Linked DNA regions of Homo sapiens: region 2 is linked to region 1. Evidence: fine-mapped expression QTL. A gene starts in region 1. The other region holds a variant in brackets. All regions are shown on one strand. Distances are from middle to middle.

Region 1 (11,827 bases):
ATCAACGATGATAAAATCAGTGGGTATAAGTTTGATAAGGAACAGGTTATACACAGTCTCAAAGTATCTCACTACAAATTACTTATTAATTCCAGAGAGAAAAAATAATAATTTTGCAGTGGAGAAACTGGCAGACATTATTCTTAAGCAAGTGATAAAAGCTCCCATCACCAGCACTGGGACAATCCCCACATCATGTGCTTGCTGATATGAAAACTGGAGAGGACATAACCTCACTGCAGTTGTATTCCTGCCCCTAATGCATTGCTTGAATCTAATCATGTAGAACCATCCACAATAACCAAATTGAGAGATATTCCACATAATAACTGACCTGTGCTATTCAAAAACACAAAGTTCAAAAAATAAATAAATAAAGCAGAACTGCTCTGGATTTGAGGAGACTAAAGAGAGATGACAATTAAATGCAATCTATGGATTGGATCCTAACTGAGGTGAGGGAGATTGGGGAGCCATAAAGACATTATTAGGACCGAATTGCACTGTGGTAAGAGATTATCCTTTTTAAGGAAATATATACTTAACGATATAGGGGCTAAAGAGGCATCATGTCTCCAATTTCTCCTCAATTAATCAGAAACATAAACATTTTCAATGTATTCATATATATAATAAAACAATAAATATATTATAAAAATATACAGTGAAATATGTTATATAAACAATAAAAATATATGCAAATAATAAAAATAATATTTTTGCATGATTGGAGAGAATGAAAGTTAATAAAGTAAATGGAAGATCATGTAAACAGTTGAAACATGAATAAAGAGAGATTTCTTATATAAGTCTTATACATTTTTATTATATTTGATATGTCAAAATTTAGAGTGACATAAAAATAGGAAGCACTCAATAAATGTTTGTTGAATGAATAAGTGAGCCCATATTCAATCATGTCCCTCCCTTCTTAAAATACCTCAGTGCTTGTCCATAAATATGACAAAAAGTCTAAACATCTCAGGACAGCAATCCAGACCAGACTCCATACAAAGCTCCTTGTAACATCTTCCATCTCATCCCCAACACTACTGACCACCCACACCATAGGCTCCAGTTATGCTAACTGCTTAAAATTCCCCAAACTTACCACGTTAGGCAACACTTGTGTGCCCTCACACGTGCTGGTCTCTCTACCTACAATGTCCTCCTCTTCCTGGCAACTTCCTGTTATCTTTCAAGATCCACACCAAGTACTTACACTTTCGGGAAGGCCTTTCTGACTGCCCCAGTTGGAGACAACACTTCCTTGCTGCTACATTAGTGCCTCTAGTACCTGATTTGATCATGCCCCACAGACAGGCCTTTATTTGTTTACAAGTCTGCCTTGCCATAAGGTCTGATTGCTACTTGAAGCCCGGGATATTCCTACTTACCTCTACCCCCAGCGCCTTGCACAGACCCTGGCACAGCAAATGATCTCAATTAATACTGAGGCATGAATAAATGAATCAGTTTTGGTTGTACTTTCTGGATCTTCCAAGAGAACCCTTAACTTTAGTCTCTTTCATCATCCTCAGAAAATGCAGAGAAGTGAGAGAAATGAGTTCTCTCATTTTATGCACCAGGAAAGGGAGGCTCAGAGAAGGTAAGTGACTTAACCCAAGATAACACAGTGTGCCCAAGGATGAGTCAGAGCTGGAATCCAGATCTTGTGCCAATTAGGCCGGTGTTCTTTCACAGAAAGTGGGTGGCATAAGAAAGAAGGATATTGCATTTTATGGTTTGCCTATTCTATGCCAGACACTGAATTTCAAATAAACTTTCCAGTTCAAGCACCACATTGCCTTATGAGGAACCCCATTTTACAGATGAGGAAACTGAGGCTCCAAGTCAGATCTGTCTGGCTGCAAAGCCCGTGCACTCTTTTCCGCACATTGCCAGTATGTACCGCCCACCTCTGACCCTCCATCAAAAGAAGTGAGATGGCCTGAGCCAATTGTTCTGTCCCTCAACAGTGTCTTTAAATCCAGCACCACACACAGGCCCACAACGTAGCTTACACCCTCCAACCACAGGCCACATTTCACATGGTTTCCAAACCCAGAATATTTGGTTTGTAAGACAAAACCTTCATTTCTCCAGCAGAAAGTGAACAGTATACACAACTACCCAGCCAAACTGCTGACGCCTACAGACACTGCATCACACCAAACAGAGTCTGATCTGCCCCAAGACATCCTCAAAGCATCCAAGACTCCCCCAGAGCTTGGCACTGAGGGGACCCTGGAGCTGGGGGAGGGGAGATCAGACCGGCCAGATCGCAGAGTCTGGGCAGAGGCTTGGTTCCCAGGACAGAGGTTGCTCCATGGAGAAGTGAAGGCACAGAAGTTCAACACTGCCCACTGCATGTTGGTGGGGGGTTGAAAGACAGAGGGAGAGATCCCCACACAACCCAGGAGGCCTTTCCCACCCCTTCAATCCCTGCTTCTCACACAGCAACAGTCTCCAGCTGAGGCTGGAAAGGCCAATGATGCTGATCACGTTGAGGTCCTGGAGACAGACAGAGAAGTCAAGCCCCTTAGCCTCATTCCCCAATTTGCCCAAAGGAGTAGTTTTTTCTGCTTTGAAAGCCTTTGAAATGAGGGAGTTGCCGGCATCTCTCGTGGTCAGTGGACATTCACTACACACTCTGGAGTTAGACAGATCTGGAAAGGAATCTTTGCTAGCTCTGACCTTGGGCTAGTTGTTTAGCCTTGCTGTGTTTCTGTTTCCTTATATTTAAAATAGTCTTCACTATTTCATAGAGTTGGTATAGAGGTTTCATGAAACAAAAGATGGAAAGAGCCTAAAAAGGAAGCTGGACAGTAGTCAATAATAAATAAAAGTGAGTTACTGTGAGTTACCTTTCCTGCACAGAAGTCCTAACTATCTCACACAATGCTCTTACTGGCTTTTAAGCCTGTTTTCACTTGGTTGAGCTTAAAGCCCAGGGGACAACCAGAGTCTAAATAGTGTGAAAATTCAGCAGAGATGTGGTCCAGTCTTAGTCTTACCTTTTTAAGATAACACTTTTCTGGGAAGGAAAAAACACCTCACCCATACCAAGCCACCAGCACATTACTCAGTACCAGGCCACAGGGGATTTCCTCTTTCCTACCTTGTGATCAAATGCTTCTGGGAGGATATATCTTGAAGGCAGGCAATGGCCACCAGCTTGGGTTGACATAAGATATAATGAGAAGCAGGACCTCAATGCAATGCCTGAAAGCCCACCATTCAAGTTATTCTAATCATTCTTTGTTGCTAAGCTTTACCCTCCAGCTTTCTCCTTTCCAAACATGAGTGGTCTTGGGCAGCATAAAATAATTTGACTTGGAGTGAATTAGAAGTTTCACCAACTTTGCAATGTGGCTAGAACCCTGCCCTGCATTCAGATGAGGTGCACCTCTGCAGATAAGAGGTGACAAATGATTCCCTGACCACTTAGCCTCACAGACCCAGGCAAGGAGGCAGTAAAGCCCTTCATGTGCTCCTCCACACTCCTAAGTCCAAGCTCCCCATCCCAAGCTCCAGTTCCACAAGGGCCATCCCTGATCAGAGATGTTGTGTTCCATACTGGGGGAGGGCTCAGATCCAAGAGACACAGAGAGCCCTGAGTTGGGCAGGGTCACATGAGGAAGGGGTGGCTGCGGGGCCAGGGCCAGGCTTAGGGCAAGGGTCAAACTCCTTCGGGCACCCAGACACTTGAGCTTTTGAGACAGGGAAGAGCTGGCAGCTGAAACACTCGGAGCAGGGGGTGTTTATCAATGGCCCAATTCATTCTCAACTATCCCCCTTGTCTGAGCCAGCACAGAGATGGGCATTATGTCCCAGAGCTACTAGGAAAAAAACCTCCAAGACATCGTCACCAATTAGAGTTCAAAGGTACAGAAGCCAAATTGAGACATATGAGTTGAAAACCAGATGACATATTTGAAATTGAGGATGTCCCAGGAAAATCCAGTGTGATTCCCATCCCCAGAGACCAATAGAATGCTTAATTGCTGGTTTTTCATTTATTTGTTCTGATTTCCTTCAACAAAGGATGTGGAAGTTTACAGTTAAAAATATGTATTCTATAAAGTTGATAAAGCAGAAATTAGAAGTCAAAGCAATGGTTCCAACTAACATAGTTATTACAACAGAGCCATATGATGGACTAAGAGCTTCCCAGCAAGCAGAGTGACAAGGGAAGCACAATGGGAAAATAATTCCTTCCCCTGCCACCTTTATTCTGCTGGACTGACCATAGCCTGCCCTTTTTTAACCATTCCCAAGGGTCAGGTGTAGGATCAGGCCAAAGAGAAGCTAGATCCCAGCATTCCCCTCAAAAAATGGTTGAACCCAACTTGCTCTCCTGCATATTAGAGGAGTTGGTGGGTGAGAGCTTAGTCACCCCTTAGACTAAACCATAAACACTAAGAAAGAAGAAACTCAGGCCAGGCATGGTGGCTCACACCTGTTATCCCAGCAGTATCGGAGGCCTAGGCAGGCAGATCACCTGAGGTCAGGAGTTCAAGACCAGCCTGACCAACATGGAAAAACCCCATCTCTACTAAAAATACAAAAATTAGCTGGGCATGGTGGTGGGGGTCTATAATCCCAGCTACTCAGGGGCTGAGGCAGGAGAATCGCTTGAATCCGGGGGGCAGAGGTTGCAATGAGCTGAGATCATGCCACTGCACTCCAGCCTGGGCGATAGAGCAAGACTCCATCAAAGAAGGAAGGAAAGAAGGAAGGAAGGAAGGAAGGAAGGAGGGAGGGAGGGAGGGAGGGAGGGAGGGAGGGAGGGAGGGAGGGGGAGAGAGAGAGAGAGAGAGAGAGAGAGAGAAAGAAAGAAAGAAAGAAAGAAAGAAAGAAAGAAAGAAAGAAAAGAAAGAAAAGAAAAGAAAGGAAGGAAGAAAAAAAGAAAGAATGGAAGGAAGGAAGGAAGGAAAAGAGAGAAAGAGAAGGAAGGAAGAAAGGAAGGGAAGGAAGGAAGCTCAATACCATCTTTCTAACTTCCCAGCTGAAAGAGCACATTTAGTCTGGGTACCTCACTGAAGTATTCAGAAGAGAATAGCCAGGATGGGACAGGTCTAGAAGCTCTACTAAGAAGAATAACACCACCACTCAGCTGGTATTTTAGGGCACCTACTCTTCCAAGCGCTGTATAGTGTGTGCCCAGTGGTCACCAGGGGGAGGAGGTCATGGAGAAGATTCTGTCCAGAAAAAAAGATAACCACTGGAAGAAAGGAAAGGAGCAGAGCAAATGCCATCCCTCCACCAGCCTGTGGGAGGGAGACTCAAAGTAGGGTTGAACGAAACCAAAGAAGAGAAAGAATCAACCCAGCTCAATTCACTGTCCTCCCTGCCAAATGGTTGCCTTGGGACCCAACCCAGAAAGGTCACTGCTTCTCTGCAGCAAGTGTAATCCAGAGTATAAACTACAGCATGGAGCAAATTATATATGCTGAGCTCCATGTCAGATCCCAGCCTGACCTGGCTTGCCTTCCAAAGGCAGTGTTTGGAAGTTTTCACTTCTAAAAGGGCGAACAGTGCTTCTAAGTCCCAGAGCTAAAGGGACAAGATGCTCTCTGGCTGAGCTCCATGGACAGCCTCAGTTTCAGATTCAATGGAACCCCTCAAAGGCACCACATCACCATCTGCCCTGACCCCCACAGCCAAAGTCCCTGACTTAAAATATTCCCCACTGAGGCCAGTTTCTTGGACCCATTGTCAGAGGTATAATATATAGATTAAAAGGGGCAAAAGTGGGAGGAGGCTAGCGGCTGAGGGTGGGGCCACACCAGGGATACATTTGCGCATATGCATTGAACAAAGTGGGTGCATGTTGCATACATGTCGTTGTCCACAGGTATACATGTTGAAAGTGTGAATGGTTGCATGGCTATCCTGAGAAGAGTGTGTGCAAGACTGGTGCACATGGACAGGAATGTGTGTATGCTGAGCATGTAAGCGTGGGTGCACTGCGAGTGTTTGTGGGTGGCCATGGCCATATGGTCCACTCATCCCCTGGCCTCCTGTCTCTTCTCCTGGTTTAAGAGTGGGGTCTCCCAAGCTGTCTCCCTGACCCTGGTCTAGCCAGATGGGGTTAGTCAGAGCCACATTCACTCCAGTGTTGTGTGAGGGCTCTGAGCTTCTGTCCTTCTCCAAGCCCTGAGAAACCAAAGCTGAATGACCCACAGAGAAGACACCCCAGCTGGGACAAGTCAGGTCACCTTAGAAAGCCTGAGTTCAGATAACACTCCCTAGCCCCAATTTCTGCCTTCCTGGGTTCACACTGGCACATCCACTCATCCACATGTGGACTGGCTCAGCCCACCTGGGGGCCTTCCTGCCACACACACAGGCATTTCCACAGGTACAGACACAGTGCACCCAGGGCAGCAGGTGCCACACAGGCAAATACCTGTGGCCCACTCCAGGCCACCACACACTCTGACACACTCGTTCACCCACACTCGCACCCTGGGGCACATGCTAGAAAATTCCACATGTGGACATCCCATCCAGACACACTCCCTCACACTGGCGCAAGCTCCCCTTCACAAGCACTCCCACTGACACACTTACACCTACTATCCAATTAGTGACAAACCTGCACTGTTCCCAACTAGGCTAGCAGAGGCATCACCAGCCCCCTGAATCCAGCTAGGGGAGCTGTCTACTTACTTAGCGTGCGAGACAGGCTGGTAGTGCGAGCGGCCAGTGGTGGCGGGGCGCAGCTGGAGCTCCAGAGGCCGCGCGCAAAGTGGCCGCTCTGCCGGCCCAGCCCGAGAGGCCGCCCCTGGCCCCCGCCCCACCCCCCGCCCCGTTCTCCCCCGCCCGCCCTCTCCGAGGCGGTCGCAGCCTCCCAAGGACCTTCCACAGCAGCGCGCTCCCTGCCAAGCCTTGGTCCCGCGTCAGCCACGGCTGCCTGCTGTCTCCGCGGGACTACGAGGCTATTTCGGTGCCCCTGGGGGGGGAAACATGGCCCTCCCTCCCATCTGCAGGAGCGCTGGAATGGGGACGCGGTCAGGCCTAATTAGAGACCGGGCTCCCCCGGGCCAGGCGGCAGGCACCAGGGTGATCGCCCGGGAGCCGCGAAGCCGTCCAGGCGGGGTCGCCCACAAGGTGCCCCGCATGCCAACATCTGGAGAGGGGAAGGGAATGTGCCGCGATCGTTTCCCTTGGAGCTGAAACAAAACAAGGAGGGATTTGGGTGCAGTTCACTTGCTAGGAAGGAGGAAGCCACCCAGCTTTGATAGACCCCAAACGCCTAGAATGAGACGGTTTATTCACCGCAGGTGCTTCCCTCTGGAACCTTGCTCACACACACCTAAGTCACCCTCCACATCTTGGACCTGCCAAAAATGACGAGGGGTTGTTGCAGAAACTCCTTCTAACTTCGGCACATAAGATCAGACCCCACCCCCCACCCCCCACCCCCGTCCTGGACTCTGTCAAATAGCTAAATCTAGAGGAACTTGATTCCTACCCAAAAGCTCGGGAATGTGGCATTTTTGACCTGGAAGAAAGCTTCCAGATCATTTCATACAACTCCCCCTCCCCCGCCTCCGCCATCTTGCTATGAGGCTCCCAGAGCCCAGAGAATCTTGACCTATTCTTGGAGGTCCTCAAGCAAAGGCAGCCCCTGGTCTCCCTTGAGCCCTGTTCCAAAGCTTGAACTCTCTTACTGACAGAAAGATCTCCTTGACATCTAACCTAAATCTCTCACATGCAAACTATGTCAATTTGCTCACAATATGTATTCAGGGAGAAGGAGCTCAACTCAGTCCCCATGACAAAACGACCACGCCGAGGTCCCACTGCAGCCTTCTCTTCCTTAATGCTAATAATCTCTATTTCTTTTTTCAGGCTCTGGCTGAAGCTAACTGCTGCTCCCTGGACTCGAACACACACAGTAGCTCTCTGATATTAACTCTCCTCCTCAGCTCTCTGGGGGCCCAGGGCTCAGAAGGTGGCCAAATCATTCCTCTCAGACAAGCCAGCTTCAACTCTACCCTCCAGTCATCCAGAACAGCCTGATTCTACTCCCCAAGTTCCCTGAGAGGGGCCTCAGTTCCTGTTTCAACAAGTGCTGTCTAGGGCTGGGGACAGGGCTTGGTGCCGCCTGGCTGGGCATTACCACTGAAACCACAGTCTTACAGACTGTTTGCAGAATCTTCTCTCTGAGTCTGTTTCCGGTAGGGCAGGTGGTATGATAAGAATAGTCTCAGCCGGGAGTGGTGGCTCACGCCTGTAATCCCAGCTCTTTGGGAGGCCAAGGTGGATAGATCACAAAGTCCGGAGATTAAGTCCATCCTGGCCGACATGGTGAAACCCCATCTCTACTAATAATACAAAAATTAACTGGGCGAGTTGTCATGTGCCTGTTACCCCAGCTACTCAGGAGGCTGAGGCAAGAGAATAGCTTGAACCAATGAGTCGGAGGTTGCAGTGAGCCAGTGAGCCAAGATTGTGCCACTGCACATCAGCCTGGCAACAGAGTGAGATTGCATCAAAAAAGAAAGAGAGAGAGAGAGAGACAGAAAGAAAGAAAGAAAGAAAGAAAGAGAGAGAGAGAAAAGAAAGAAAGAGGAAGGAAGGAAGAAAGGAAGGGAGGGAAGAGAGGGAAGGAAAGGAAGGGAAGGAAAGAAGTCTCCAATTCTTCCTCAAAGAAACCTGTTTTGCATCCTGCCTCTACTACTTTCTAGTGATGAGTCCTTGGACAAATCACTTAACCTCTCTGAGCATCAGTTTTCCCATATGTACATTGGGGAACATAAAAATCTCTGCCCAGCTCATGAGGTTGTTGAAAGTATGAAGTGAGGTCAAGGATGTAAAGCACCTGGAAAACTAAGATATTTTATTATATGCTAGAAATAGAATGAGGCTTAGATCATAAACAGATCGATGTTAGCAAAAAAGCCTCAAAGTTCTTTTATTTCCAGGCCCAAACTCTGTGTCTGGGTTTCAGGGTAAGAGAGGAACAGACTTGGTTTGTTAGATGTTCCCTGGAGGCACTTGGCATAAATGCCCCCCCCCCACTTCCCAATACACACACACACACACACACACACACACACACACACACACACACACTCACATCCACCTTCCCAGATACATACGGCACAGCACAGCCTCCTGGACTCCTGGACTCCCCATAGACCCCAGCCACCTGGACCTTCGCTGGCCGCCTCTCCATTGCCAGGGGGCCGTCTCATGGCTCCAGCCTTGGCTGCAGCGACTCCAAGTCTCCTTACAGAGGCCCCTGTGAACAGCTTCTTTCCCTTTGCCCACCCTTCTGGGCCATGGCCCTGAGAAGGCCTGTGACTCAAGGCAAAGCTTGTCCAAGGCAGTTCAGTACTGAGGCTGCCCAAGGGAGCTCAGAGTTGAAGCTTCCTCCCCCTCGACCCCCTCCCCTCTGTCTGCCTGACTTCTCAATGCTGTGCTGTCCTGCTTAATTCTTAATGGAAATTCCATCCCCGGCGCCGGCCCTAGCTGGCTCAGGGAGTCCAGGCTTGGGCCAACAGCAAACTCCACCAGAGAGACTGGGCCTGTCTGGCTATATAAACACACCTAAACACATATATACATGTGTGTATACACACACCAGCAGCAAGACATGCTCAGAGACATTTACAAACTCAGATATTCTCATCCAGACACATCCAGACACAAAGATAATATACATTCTAATCATTAACATTTATTGCATATACGAGAACTTCATAGGTATCAATTGCTCTAATCCTTAGAACAGTACTAGGTTCTGGTATTATCCCTATTTTACACATGAAGAAACTGAGGCCCAGGGAGGGCCTCAGTAAGTAACTTACCCAAGACATTGATAATAACAGCCTAACACATGAGCACCAGGAACTGTGCTAAGAAGCTTATGTGCATGTTTCATTTTGCTGCCATAGTAACCTTTTATAAAAGTTATTATTATCCCCATAATACAGACACAGAAAAGGGAGGCCAGGTGGTTTAAATCACCTGTCTGTGGCCTCACAGCTGGTGAGATGGAGACTCTACACAAATACACATGGGAATCCTTATGGATGCACAGAAAGACACACAGGTAAAGACACATGCACATGCTCAGAGGTGTACCCACAAATAGCTTATTTCACCTAAACCAAAGTAGGCGCCTCAGGACTGGTCCAGAGCTGTATCAGGCAAAGGTCCCCTCCAGCCTGACTCCACATTCTTCTCCTGTCCAGATGGCCTATCCCAGATCCACCAGCTTCACACATCACTTTAGGAAGGACAAGTTCAGACCTAAATGGAGGAAAGACTTCAGGTTTACACTGCAGTCTGCCAGGTTCATAGTCAACCCCCAGCCTCAGCTCCAAATTGTTCCCCCAGTATTCCCTAGATAGTCACTGAAAGAAGCCTCAGCTACACTCTTCTGAAGGGATCGCACTTCCAAGGAGGGAGCACCTCCGAGGCTCTGAGCACTGACCAGCCTCCAATGCTAGGATCCTGTCCTTCAGGCCCAGATGAATATAAACAGGGCCCTTGGGACAAGGCCTGGCACAGGAGCCCAAGCATTGGGTAGAGCAGAGCACGTGTTGCCCGAGGGAGTTGAAGTTATACTGTAGGAAGATGGCAAAACCCTGGTGGAACGAGAGGAGACAGGGATTGGGGCCAGGCCACTCCACCCTCTCCTGCATTTGTTCCACCACATACTTCTTGTGGCTTATTGGCCACGTAGGGGAGGGCAGAAAAGTCCTTTTCCTTTTGGGACAGGCAATGAAGTCCTGAGTCCAGAGAGTTGAGAGGACAGACATGCAGGAGAGATCCAAAGAGTTCAGTCCGCCAGGAGCTTATCCACTGCTTGAAGTTGCCATGCTATGCTAGGTATCTCCAAGGGGCAGGATGTGTGCTGGCCTCAGGCCTCCTTCTAAGCAGCCACAATAGAAAGTGCCTAAGAAGGCCTGTTATAGCCAGGGTAGTCTCTATTGTCTCTTGTGATTTCCCCTATCCCCAACCCAGAATTCCCCAACTGTTTCTGTTGTCACAAGCTCATCCACCCTGTAGTCAGAGAACATAGCCCAGCATGGCAGTCCCATGGGGCACCAGCATTGGAAGAGTTTTTTGAGGGAGGAGTGCTTAATCTCCACAAATGAATAAGGAATCATGGTGATTCAGGCAATAGCTCTAAGATGGGGAGATATTCTGAGCTGAAGAATTTGCATTTCTAAAAAGTTCCCAGGTGATGTTGATACTACTGATCTGGAGATCATGCTTTGAGAACCACTACTCTCTAGAATAAGAGAAAGTCAGGGATGATTCCAGTTCAAAACTAAATTTCCAACCTAATTACAGCATAAAGATGATCTCTTCTGAAAGCTCCTTAAATGTACAATCCTGGGCCAGGAGCAGCGGCTGACACCAGTAATCCCAGTACCACTTTGGGAGGCTGAGGTGGGAGGATAAGTGGAAGCTAAAAGTTCAAGACCAGCCTAAACAACAAAGCTATACCTCATCTTTGAAAAAAAATAAAAATAAAAAATTAGCCAGGAAAAGTGGTGTGCACCTGTGGTCCCAGCTACTCAGGAGGCTGAGGCAGGAGGATAGGAGGAAGACTGCTTGATCCCAGAAGTTCAAAGTTACAGTGAGCTATGATCACACCACTGCACTCCACCCTTGACAACAGAGTAGGACACTTTCAAAAAAAAAAAAAGAATTTTTAACCTTTTCAGTAGTTTGTACACTTTTTTGCCTAACTTTTCTCTTCCCAACTTCTGTGTCACCCCTGCCATCTATTGGTGGGTCTTTCATGGGCTCTGTCATGGCTCTCTCTGCCCCAGCACACCTCAAGACAAAAAAC
Region 2 (11,827 bases), 120 kb before region 1:
AGCCTTCCCCATGGGGCCAGCTGGACAGATGGCTGCAGGGTGCAAGCAAAGGCTGTCAGGATGACTTCAGGGGTCTCACCCACAGGGAGGAAGCTGGACAAGGCTGTTCCTCCATGCCTTCTTCTCCTGAGGGTGTCTCCATGTACCAAGTCACTATACTTGGGAGGAGCATCTGAAGACATCTTTATTTTTTAATGCTATTATTGAGCTTTTACTACACACTCAGCACTGTGCTAAATGCATAGTAAATGCATAATGCCCTAAAACCTTCCAGTAGCCTCATGTATTAGGTACCATTACAATTCCATTTTGAAGCCCAGAAAGAAGTGAAGTATCTTGCCCAGTGTCACATGGTTAGCAGTTGGGGGAGCCGCTATTAAAATTCAGATGTAGCATCACATTTAGGATTAAGAAAACGAAAGAAACTCAGATAACTGGTTTCTCTACATCACCTCTTCACTTCTGATACTGGCTGCTTCTGAGACAGGTCCAGTGGTGATGAATCCCCCAGGTAAGAGGTGATCCAAACCTAAGCTGGATATTGACTAGATCAAATGTTTTAGAGTAAATTCAACCTGGAAAAGGGTGCAGTAGTTAGACTGAGAGTTTTCAACCGAATAATCTCTGCTGAGAAGCCTCCTACCTCTCCCTGAAACCAGATTTGTCTTCTGATTGTTCTAGAAACCATACCCATGTCCGCTCATACCTCCTTGCCTTTACCCACTCTTTCTTTCTACAAGGGATGCCATTTTCCCTCTTGACGCTCCATCTAAAAAACTCCACCCTGCAGGTTGTAGCAAAAGTTCATCTTCTGTGTGAGCTGTTGCCCAACTGCCCATCCCACACTCCCCTCTTCTGCACCCAGTGGCTCCTGCCAGCTTAGAACTTAAGCCAGACATGACCCAAGGATATAGTTTTGCTTTGTTTTGTTGCCCCATATAGTGTCTACAATTTTTTAGATTTTTGATAGTGTGCTAACTGGAGGATTTCTATAAAAATCTAGATTTCTGACTTCTGAAACTGCCTCCTGAATTTTAACCCTAGGACCTCATTTCTGCACAACAAATTGTTAAAGCTTATTATGAGTTCCTTCTTTAAAAGAGATTGATCCTGTCTCTGGTGAGCTCGCCTCGTCCATTTACATTACCTGTCTGAGTTTTGTAGGCATCTAAGTTTGCAACCTGTTATTTAGACCATGGACTCTCAAAGCCCAGTCTGCACAACAAGATTTGCCCTGTCCAGACCTTAGAGGCCTGTCTTCCAGTAGACACCAGTTGCATTGACACCATTGTTGATTCCTCAAATCCTGCCCTGCTTTGGAAAATAGCTCCTTCATTAAACTCTCTTCAGGTAAACCCCGTGAGACTGCCACTGTTTCCTGAAAGAGCAGGGGGGCTTAGCATAGTGCTCATTCTGTGCCAGACAATCTTCTAACGTGCTTCATGTTAATCCTCACAACATCCTTATGAGGTAGGGATTATTCTCATTTTGCAGATGAAAAAACAGAGAGGTCATATGGTTAGTAAACAACAGTGCCAGGATTCAAACCCACAGAGTATGGTTCCAGTTTTCAACCTCAACCACCATGCCAACCTCCCTCTGTTGCATTATTCTATTGTAGATGTTATATTTTTATCATATGTCACTTTTGTTAAGTTGTGCTCTCTGTCTAGACTGTGAGATCCTCTAGGACAAAGACAGGGATTTAGTTATCTCTGTTCTCATTGTCTAGCACAATGCCAGGCACATATTAGGTCTCAATAACTGTTTACTGATTCAGTCAGTCAATAGCACTTTGTGAACCATAAAACCCTCTACAGATGCCAGATATTCCAATCTCAAATTCACAGGCCTATGGAGACCCACTCCCACTGAACACTTCAACGTAAGGCTCTATAAGTACCGAAAGAACGGAGCACAGATGCAGTAGCTCAGCTTCATGGCCTCAGCTGGCTCAGCAAAGTTTCTCATTATTAGCTCAATCACATAAAATTAACACAAAATGATGTCCTTCAATTAGTAACAGAGCAATGGGGGATGGGAAAGTGTATGTTTGTTAAGACAGCAGGGAAGCCTGGGAGAAGGGGGTTTAGCAAGAGCAGAGGCAGCGGGCACAGGCTCCCAGCTCACTCCGCCTCATTAGCGTCTCTGGTTTCCAACCGGTTGCTAATTGCTCCCTTATTTCCCAGTCACAGGAAGCCCTCACCATCTCTGCTCCCAGCTGCAAGGCAGCCACCACCTTGTCCTTTGGCAGAAACAGCTTAGATCAGCTTCCAGGCCAATGAAACCTGGCCCACCCCACCTGGACCTTGGTGACATGTTCAGCACAAGATGGAACAAGGGAGCAAGTGGGAGAAGAGATGCACTCAGTGAGGGCTCAAGACATTCAGGTTGCCCTGACCTGCTCTCCCATTCTCACCCCTTCCTCAGCTTTCTACTGTGGCCAAATCCAATAAGATAGGAACAATTTAAAGTTGGAATGTATCCCTTGGTAGGAATAGATTTTTTTTATTTGAGGATCATAATGAAATATTTGCCTTCTCCTCATGACCCTATTAAAATAGCAACCACCACCCCCCCACCCTGAGACTACCTTACTCTTCTTCCCTGCTTCATTTTCCCCGGGGCACTGTCACGCTATTATTGCTGGACATTTGCTATCTTCTTATACATTATCTGTCTTCCACTAGAATTTAGGCCTCACAAAAGCAAACAAATATTCACATATATAGACCCAGTTGCACACATACAAGCACACACATATATGCTCAGGCAAGCATGGAGACACGTGTACCTATTTTTTTTTTTTTTTTTTTTTTTGAGACAGAGTCTCGCTCTGTTGCCCAGGATGGAGTGCAATGGCGTGATCTCAGCTCACTGCAACCTCCGCCTCCCAGGTTCAAGTGATTCTCCTGCCTCAGCCTCCTGAGTAGCTGAGATTACAGGCGCCCACCACCACACCCAGCTAATTTCTGTATTTTTAGTGGAGACAGGGTTTCACCATGTTGCTCAGGCTGGTCTCGAACTCCTTACCTCAGTTGATCCGCCCACCTCTGCTTCCCAAAGTGCTGGGATTACAGGCATGATTCCTGCGCCCGGCCACATGTACCTATTTACATACCTGCACAGGCATTCACACAAGCACAAAGACACAGTCCCCTACATCCAGATAATCCACATAACATGTACAATGCTGCAAAGACATACCATTTTCCTGAATGATGTCAGAGGCACACTGTTCTAGGACAGACATGTTTGCCAAGATGGTCACAATCTGGAAAAGATAATTTAGAAACCTCAGAAAATGAGCACACCTGATCCTAATAGTCCTCCCTACAGACAGGTCAGCCAGGGGCTACAAAGCTTCCTTTTATCCCGTGACTCCTTCCTGTCCACCGGGCCTATCCTTCCACGGCATTTTCTTCCATCCTTATGGGCTCCTGCCACCCAGATGTATTTCCCCGGTGACTAATGCCCATTTATCAGCCTATGGCTATAGGACGGCCCCCAAGGGCCCCAGGACACCCTGGAAAGACTAGCATAACCCTGGGTGAAGTTGGGGCCCGGTTGTCTTTCTGCTCTGGTCCCCAGTCCTGAAATGCAGACAGAACCAGCAGGTCCCTGGCCCCTGAAACTCCTCTGTGCTGGCTTGTCCTCCTGACAGCTAGCTCTTACTCTGGATTGACTTCTTCCATCCAAGCTTCTTTCCTGGATACTAACCCTCACCTACTTTCAACCTGTGATGAATGAAGGCTAAGGTCACGTTAGAGGGCATGAGTAGGAAGAGGCAGCGTTATCAAGCATTGGGTATTACATGGAATCTGATGAGAAAGTGCATACTCAGCTGCACATTGCAAGTCTGTGGTAAGCCTCGCTTATCAGTCATCACTGAAAGTCTCTGCCTGTAGGAAATGGGGTATTGACACCAGGTGGACAGTGAGTCTCAGTTACAGCTTTGTGGGTTGTAACCAGCCTCCCCTGGTACAGTCAAGGGAGAAAAGAACTCACAGCACAAACTGGATTAAGGAATGGCCTGACAGAGGACTCATTCCAGGGACCCCAAACTGCAAAAGGGTGCCAAAATGCTACTGGAATAGATTGGGAACATGGCACCTGTTAACTCAGATACCACCCACAACACTGCTCCTGACATAAATAGCAAGATGAAAATTCACCCACTTTCACAGAAATGGACAGCGCTCTCAAGTGGTAATTAAAATGAATAATAAAATAAAATTTAAAAACACTTCTCACTGGTACAAGCCTCTCTCTCGAAAGGTTTCTTCAAAGCTTGCAGGATGGTATAAGCAAAAACTGTGTCCCCCCTCCGCTGAGACAGCAGTTGACAGTCTACTGAGTAGAATTCAGGCAGCTAAAATTCTGAAACTGGATAGTAATGTTATGTCTACCAAGAAAGAGTATTATCTACATTTTAATTACTCTGGATAACACATATTACTATTTTACTCTGGATAACAAATACATTTAAAAATGTCTTCTTTTAAACAGAAAGGAAAAACTTTACCATATTAATAGAATATCTATCTCTCCCCTTTCCTTCTAAACACATATTGGAAGGGGATTCCACATTCTTTGGCTGCTGCAGCATCTGTGTGTGTGACAACCCCTCCCAGCTCAGACCCCATCAGGGGCCTGGTTGGATAAGCATGACTACAGTGGGTTGCCAGAGGAAGGACAGGAGAATACTCCAGAACCTTTATCCTGAAAGCAACTCTGTACCACCAGGTGTTTTAAGAAGGGGGTGACTAGCTCCTATTTGCAGTTAAGAAAATAATAGGACTAAAGGAGGTTTAGGACTTAGAGGCTCTTTTACGTATTTATTTACTTGTTTTTGCACTTTTTAAGATTGCGTTTGTGGGCTCAGTGGAAGGAGTTAGAGGAAAAAGCTGGGTTGGAAAGTTCCCCAAGAGGCATCGTGTGCACATTCTTATGAGGGAGGAGGTACACGGCCAAGTCCATGTCAGTTTAGAGTTTGTTTGGCTATCTCTGGGCTGTTAGCAGAAAGCATGGACTCTGTTTCCACCACACAGGGGCTGAGACATCCCACCATCACCAGGCTGGCCTTTCTGAATAAAAACACTTACTTGACATGCAGATTCATGGAGGAAGGAAGGAAGGAGGGAAGGAGGGAGGAAGGGAGGTAAAGGAAGGAAGGAAGGACAAACTAGGAAAAGAAAAGGAAATCTTTGTCTGCGGCAACGGGTTCATTACACAGTAATTATTAGCCGTGTCACAGGCACCACGTAGGTCTTTGTGTCAGACTAATTTAGATCCTGTTAATGAAAATTACTTCCTCTTTACAGAGCCTGTACCCCATGTGGTTTTCTGGAGGTGCAGATGAAGTATTCAATTAAGTACAATTTGAATAAATGCCAATTATGCCCTGCTTTGAGTCCCCCTTGTGAAACATCCTTGTGTGCACCATAACATAGAGGGGAAAGAGGTCACTGTTTATCCTCACAGTCAAGTCCATGGGTGGGATTTTAGGGACAGCTGTTTTACCTGGTTGGATACAAGTTAACAATGCTGTCAGGGGGCAGAGTGCAGGAGCCAGGCAGACAGTTTCCCCAACCCAGGCTAATTCAGTCTTGTTTGATGATGTTCAATTAAGTTCTATTCCACCTAAGTGAAAGGGCACCATTCCCCCTGCATTTGTTTGGTGAATCCAGAGGACATCACCTTGAGAAAGGCCCTAGGTGAGAGGTCAGTATAATGTGATAGCTAAGCGTGTAGCTCAACCTACATCTAAATCCTGGCTCTATCACATTTTGCTATGATCTTGGCCATGTTACCTAACCTTCTGTGGCTTGGTGTATTCATTTTCTATTGCTGCTATAACAAATTATCGCAAACTCAGTGGCTTAAAATGACACAATTTTATCTTGCAGTTCTAGAAGTCAGAAGTTCTAAATGAGTCTTACATAGCAAAAATCAAGTTGTTGACAGATCTTCATTTATTCTGGGGGCTCTAGGGGAAAATCAATTTCCTAGTTTCTATTTTCCAGCTTCTAGAGGCTGCTCTCATTCTTTGGCTCAGGGGAGTATATCCTTCTGACCTTTGCTTCCTTAATCACGTTTGAGTCTCTGACTCTGACCCTCTTCCCTCCCTCTTACAAGAACTTCTGTGATGACACTGGATTCACCTGGATAATCAAGGATAACATTCCTATGTCAAGATCTTAACTCAATCGCATCTAGAAAACCCGTGTCGCTATATAAAGTAACTTATTCACAGGTTTTGAGGATTAGGATGTGGACATCCCTGGGGGCCCTACCACAAGAAATAAAAATAACTCAGCCAGGCACCATAGCTCATGCCTTTAATCCCAGCTTCTCCACAGGCTGAGGCAGGAGGATCACTTGAAGCCAGGAGTTTGAGATCAGCCTGAGCAATATAACAAGACTCCGTCTCTAAATAAATAAGTAAATAAATAAAAGGTATCTTTTAAGTCCTGTATGAGCATTCAATGAGTTAATATCAAGCACCCTTTGTTAAATAAAATAAATATGGCTCGCTCTGGGCAGGAGAACCTGAAAGGACTCAAGCCTTGAAAGACTGTGTCAAGAAACACTAGCCAAGTAACCTGCAGCACTCGGGGGGCTGAGCATCCGTGTGGCCAAGACACGCTGCTAATGTGAGATCCCTCCCAAAGGTGAGCCTGTCCCAGAGCAAGTCAACCCTTCCCATCAGAAGAACAGCAAAGTGTGTATTCACTACCTTCTGTGGCATTTTCAAATTATTTTTTCTTTGGCCTCCAAAGACATGAAAATTGAGGCAGACAGGAAATTGATCAAGGATAGCAGGGGACCTCCCATGTCACTGGTTC[G/A]AGAAGAAATGTCCCTGTGAGGTAGGAAGGAGGTTGGCGAGGCCTTTTGATGTCAGCACACACGGAGGAGAAACACTTGTCTGCAGGCCGATGCCAAGGTGTGAACCAGGCCTGCCTCACATCCTAGCAGTGTCTCAGCAGTCAGCCCTGATCACACCCTGACTCTGCCTGTGTTCCCTTGCTGGAAACTAATACTGAAGACCAAACTGCATTCAAGGCAAGTGAAGAATACCCAGGACACCCAAGTAGAGACAGGTGCTCTGATCTAAAGAACTTTCAACAAAGAAAGCCTGGCATATATTTCATGAAAAGTTATAATTACTTTTATGCTGTGCAGAAATTAGGACCAAAAGGCCAACAGCTTGTATGACTGTAATTAGAATTATTCTTTAATTGCCAGATGAATATTTAGATTTCTATTATCACCGTGTTAACTCTGAAATTTGCAGCAACAATGTCAACTGCAGCCCTGAGAACAAAAAGCAGAATAATTTTCAGCCTCTAGCAAGCTTGTCCAACCCATGACCTACAGGCCACATGTGGCCCAGGACAGCTTTGAATGTGGCCCAACACAAATTTGTAAACTTTCTTAAAACATTATGAGATTTTTTTGTGCGTGATTTTTCTTTTTAGCTCATCAGCTGTTGTTAGTGTTAGTGTATTTTATGTGTGGCCCAAGACAATTCTTCTTCCAGTGTGGCCCAGGGAAGTCAAAAGATTGGATAGCACTGCTCTAGGGGAAGCCCAGTGCTTCTCTCCACCCTCTTCCCTCCACACCACTTCCTCTACCAAAGAGCAGAAAGAATCCAGACAAGGACATTGATCTGTAGAATTAAGGGATCTAAGGGAAGAAAGGTGGATCTCTTTGAAAATACTTTCTTTTCCAAGGCCAGAGAGGCAAGAGAGCCCAGGAGAAGGTATAGCCCTCTCCTCTTCTGCTCTCTTTTGAGCCTTTTCCTCCCTCTGGCAGACATGGCCCAGGGCCCAGGGCGCAGGACCTGAGAGGGCTGGACAGGTGTGCAGACTAGGAGAAGGGCACTGACCTAGACCCAGAGACAAGCAGATGGCTTCTTCTCTCTGGTACGTGGGTCTTCTCATTGACAGGACCAGCTTTCCCTTACTACTAAAGTGGCAAGACTGGTGGGCTAAGATTTAGGCTTAGGAGACCACATGATAAAAGCCATAGAACTGTTTTGGATGTAGGTCCCGTGCTGCTGGCAAACAGGCTGAAGGGCTCTCCTGGGTGAGGCCCAGCTCCCTCGCCCCAGGGATTACATGAATGTTGGGCTGTAAACCCACCGTATTAGAGAGCATATAAAAGTCAGACCATATTCTCTGTGCTTGGTTTGCCCTTGGCTTTGTAGGGAAGGGTTTCTGGAGCAGGTCAGGACAGGGTGTTGTGATCCTGGATTCCTCCAATACTACACAATATCCCTGATATGTTTTGGATCTGTGTCTTCACCAAAATCTCATGTTGAATTGTAATCCCCTATGTTAGAGGTGGAGCCTGGTGGGAGGTGATTGGATCATGGGGGTGGACCCTTCATGAATGATTTAGCACCATCTTCATGGTGCTATTCTTATGATAGTGAGTGAGTTCTTGTTGAAAAGGGTGAAGCACCTCCCCCTTCACTCTCTCTTGCTCCTGCTTCTGCCATGCGATGTGTCTGCTTCACCTTTGCCTTCCATCATTATTGTAAGTTTTCTAAGGCCTCTCCAGAAGCCAAACAGATTCCAGCTTCATGCTTTCTGTATAGCCTGTAGAACCATGAGCCAATTAAACCTTTTTTCTTTACAAATTACCCAGTCTTAGGTAATTTATTTTTATTTTTATTTTTGAGACAAGGTCTGGCTCTATCATCCAGGCTGGAGTACAGTGGTGCCATCTTGGCTCACTGTAACCTCCATTTCCCGGGCTCAAGCCATCCTCCCACCTCAGCTTCCCAAGTAGCTGGGACTACAGGTGTGTACCACCATGCCTGGCTTTTATATATATATATATATATATATATATTATATATATATATATATATATATATATATATATAATATATATATATATATATAAATATATATATAATATTATATATATATAATATATAAAAAATTTATATATATATAAAAATGTTTTTTATAGAGATAGGATTTTGCCACGTTGCCCAGGCTGGTCTTGAACTCATGAACACAGGCAATCTGCCTGCCTCAACCTCCCAAAGTACTGGGATTACATCAGGCATTTCTTTACAGCAATGTGAGAATAGACCAATACAATTGCCACCACATTAACTATATTTCCTGACCCTACCTTCCTGTTCCAAAGCTTACATTCCCTGTCTCCGACCCATCCCAGTCTCTGGTTCTGTTAGAGAACCCATCCCATTCATTATTGGGTATTCGCTTTGCTTCTAAGTACTTTATGAGCGTTATCCCATCTAATCATCATAATGACATGAGGGAGGGAACAAATGTTATTATCCCCATTACACAGATGAGGAAATTGTGGCTCAGAGATTAAGTGATTTGTCCAAGGTCACATAGCTGGGAAATGGCAGAACCAGAATGTGAACTCAAATCTGTCTGAACTAAAAACCTGTGCTGTTTCTAATACGTCATATATGTATATGACAGAGCTTTATAAACTATAGAGAGATTTTGAGATGTGAGACAAAAATGAAACCCCTAGTGACTGGCATTCCCTGATAAATGGTATTCACAGTGAGGTCCCAGAAATGTTACAAAATCTAGTCATTCTAAAATGCCAAACAGATGAGGTATTACTGTGGGAAGTATATACTAGCACTCCTTCCCTTATGAAAGCAGTTAATTCCTGAAGGCCACAAAAAGTCAGACTCAGTAAAAATCTCTATTATATATTAGATAAGATAATCAGGTCTCTTCCATCCTAGATTGTCCCTGCTTGACGGATAGGCCAGAAGTTCACCAACAAATTTGGAGGCAGCCCGTTTCCTACCTCCCCCTGTCAGATCTGTAGCTGGATTCTATGGGCAGTATGGCTCCTGGAAAATACCTCCTGGGCATGAAAACATAGGACTATTCAGATTGCTTGTCAGGCTTCTCAATGGCTGACCATGTCAGCTGCAGCCCGTGCCACCTTCCTGTGGATTAGCTGAAGGGTATAGAAGAGCCTAGGTCCAAGGCTGCCCTCACCAACGTCCATACCCCAAGGGTGGCGACAGGATAGGCATACCCAACGAGGCTTCTGTTGAACAAATTAAGTGGACCTGGCTTGCCAGGATGATGGAAGGGTTCTCATTGTCCAAACAGAGGTAGTCTGTATAGATCCAAGACCAAGAGGCTCCACACAGCATTGGCGTCATTGGCAGATTCATTACCGGAAGCCTCATGGGGCATTTAATCTCCTAAGTATTTTAGGGGGCAGTGAGCACTTCAAAGCCTAATTCATCTTCTTTGTCTTCATTACAGAGAGCCCTCTGATCACCTTAATCCTCCCACTGCAACAGGAAAGAGCCATTTGTTTCTTTAATGGGTGCACTTTCACTAGCTAAGTGGTTGTTCTGAGACAGGACAGAAGGTGAAGCCATCCTGAGGACAGTGGGTGACGTGCCTGGCTCAGACAGTGGAGTAACGTGAAAAGGTACCGACTCCAGGTGCAGAGAGAACTATCTGCTGGCAGCGCAACCACATTCTCTCCCTACCCTGATCTCCTTTTCCTAGGACTCAGTGAGGCTTCAAGAGGGGGCTAGTCATTCCTTGTGATAAGAAGGGGACTTCTACACATAGAGACAGAGGATGTTCAAGATGGAAGAGGTCATGCCCATTTTACAGATGAGGGGACTCCTCTCTGGAGGGTCCCATTCAATGCTGTGTGCCACACATTCAAAGGCCAATTGTAATAACATTGACAGTGGCTTCCATTGATTTAACAGTTTCTATGTGCCAGAGTCTGTACCAAGAGTTTATATTTATTTATTAATTAATTTAATTCTTATTTCAACTTTGTAAAATATGTATTATTTGTTTCCATTTTACAAATTAAGAAAGTGAGACATAGAGTGAATTGCCCAAAGTGACATGATTATTAATAGCAAAAAAGCCTCAAACTCAGGTTGTCTGAATCCAAAATTCCTTGTCTTATTGCCTCACTACTGGATCTTGTAGGAAATGACCGGAGTCAGCCACAGGAGAGGCACTTGAAGGTGAAAGAACCTAAAATTATGTCAGGTAGATGAAAGACCCAGCAACTGGAGGTATCTATCTGAAGAGAACATGAGCATGAGTAAGGCGGATCACAAAAAGTGGGCCCTCCTGTCTCCCTCTCTACTACCAAGGGTATGTCTATGGTAGGCATGGGGCATGTCCCCCTCAGGAGTCAATCAAGCCAATAGCCAACCAGGGGGTCACCACTTTATCTGTTACTGTCATACCTTCTCTCTACAGGGACCTCTCCAACTCTTAGAAGTAATAAGATCAGACTGGAAAGGAAGTCTGGAATCATACATATCATACATAGTTTGGAGGGCCAAGTTGAGGATTTTGGATAATTCACTACTCATGCTCTTCTTTGGAGCATCAGGTTTAAAAAGTAATGATATTCACCATTTATTAAGAACTTAATAGGGGCTAAGCCTTACATCAGGTCCTTGCATATCTTATTACACTCACCCTCACAATAACCCTGCAATATAGACATTCATGTCCCAATTAATAGATGCAAAAACCCAACACCCAGGAGCCTTTGACTTGCTCAGTGTCACTCAATTGATAAATGGCCCAGGCAGGACCAACACCCAGTCTGTGGTTCAACAGCTGCACTACCTCCTTTCTTCAAAGATGACAGCAGATGAGAGTCAAAGATCAAGTTCTAAGTCAGGATTTAAATTTAATCCTCATTTAAATGCTGGCTAGCTGCCTGCCAACCATTTAATTTTGGGGACATCCTCTTGAGCCAAAATATTCTTATCTATAAAATGGGGCAAATATCACCAGTGTCACAGTAT

Evidence for each region.
Region 2: its variant is fine-mapped to the expression of INSC in whole blood (INTERVAL, PIP above 0.99).

Annotation. Positions count from the first base shown.
Region 1 is chr11:15,109,855-15,121,681 of GRCh38, reverse strand. INSC (INSC spindle orientation adaptor protein) reads right to left here and starts at 6,759. Exons shown (of 13, transcript NM_001042536.3): 1 at 6,679-6,759. RefSeq lists enhancers at 7,052-7,585, 8,237-8,286.
Region 2 is chr11:15,227,049-15,238,875 of GRCh38, reverse strand. INSC (INSC spindle orientation adaptor protein) reads right to left here. Exons shown (of 13, transcript NM_001042536.3): 10 at 3,208-3,274. Among named protein-coding and RNA genes, the nearest start is that of INSC, 120 kb to the right of the region's middle. RefSeq lists an enhancer at 1-379. The variant G/A (reference allele first, on the strand shown) is at 6,849.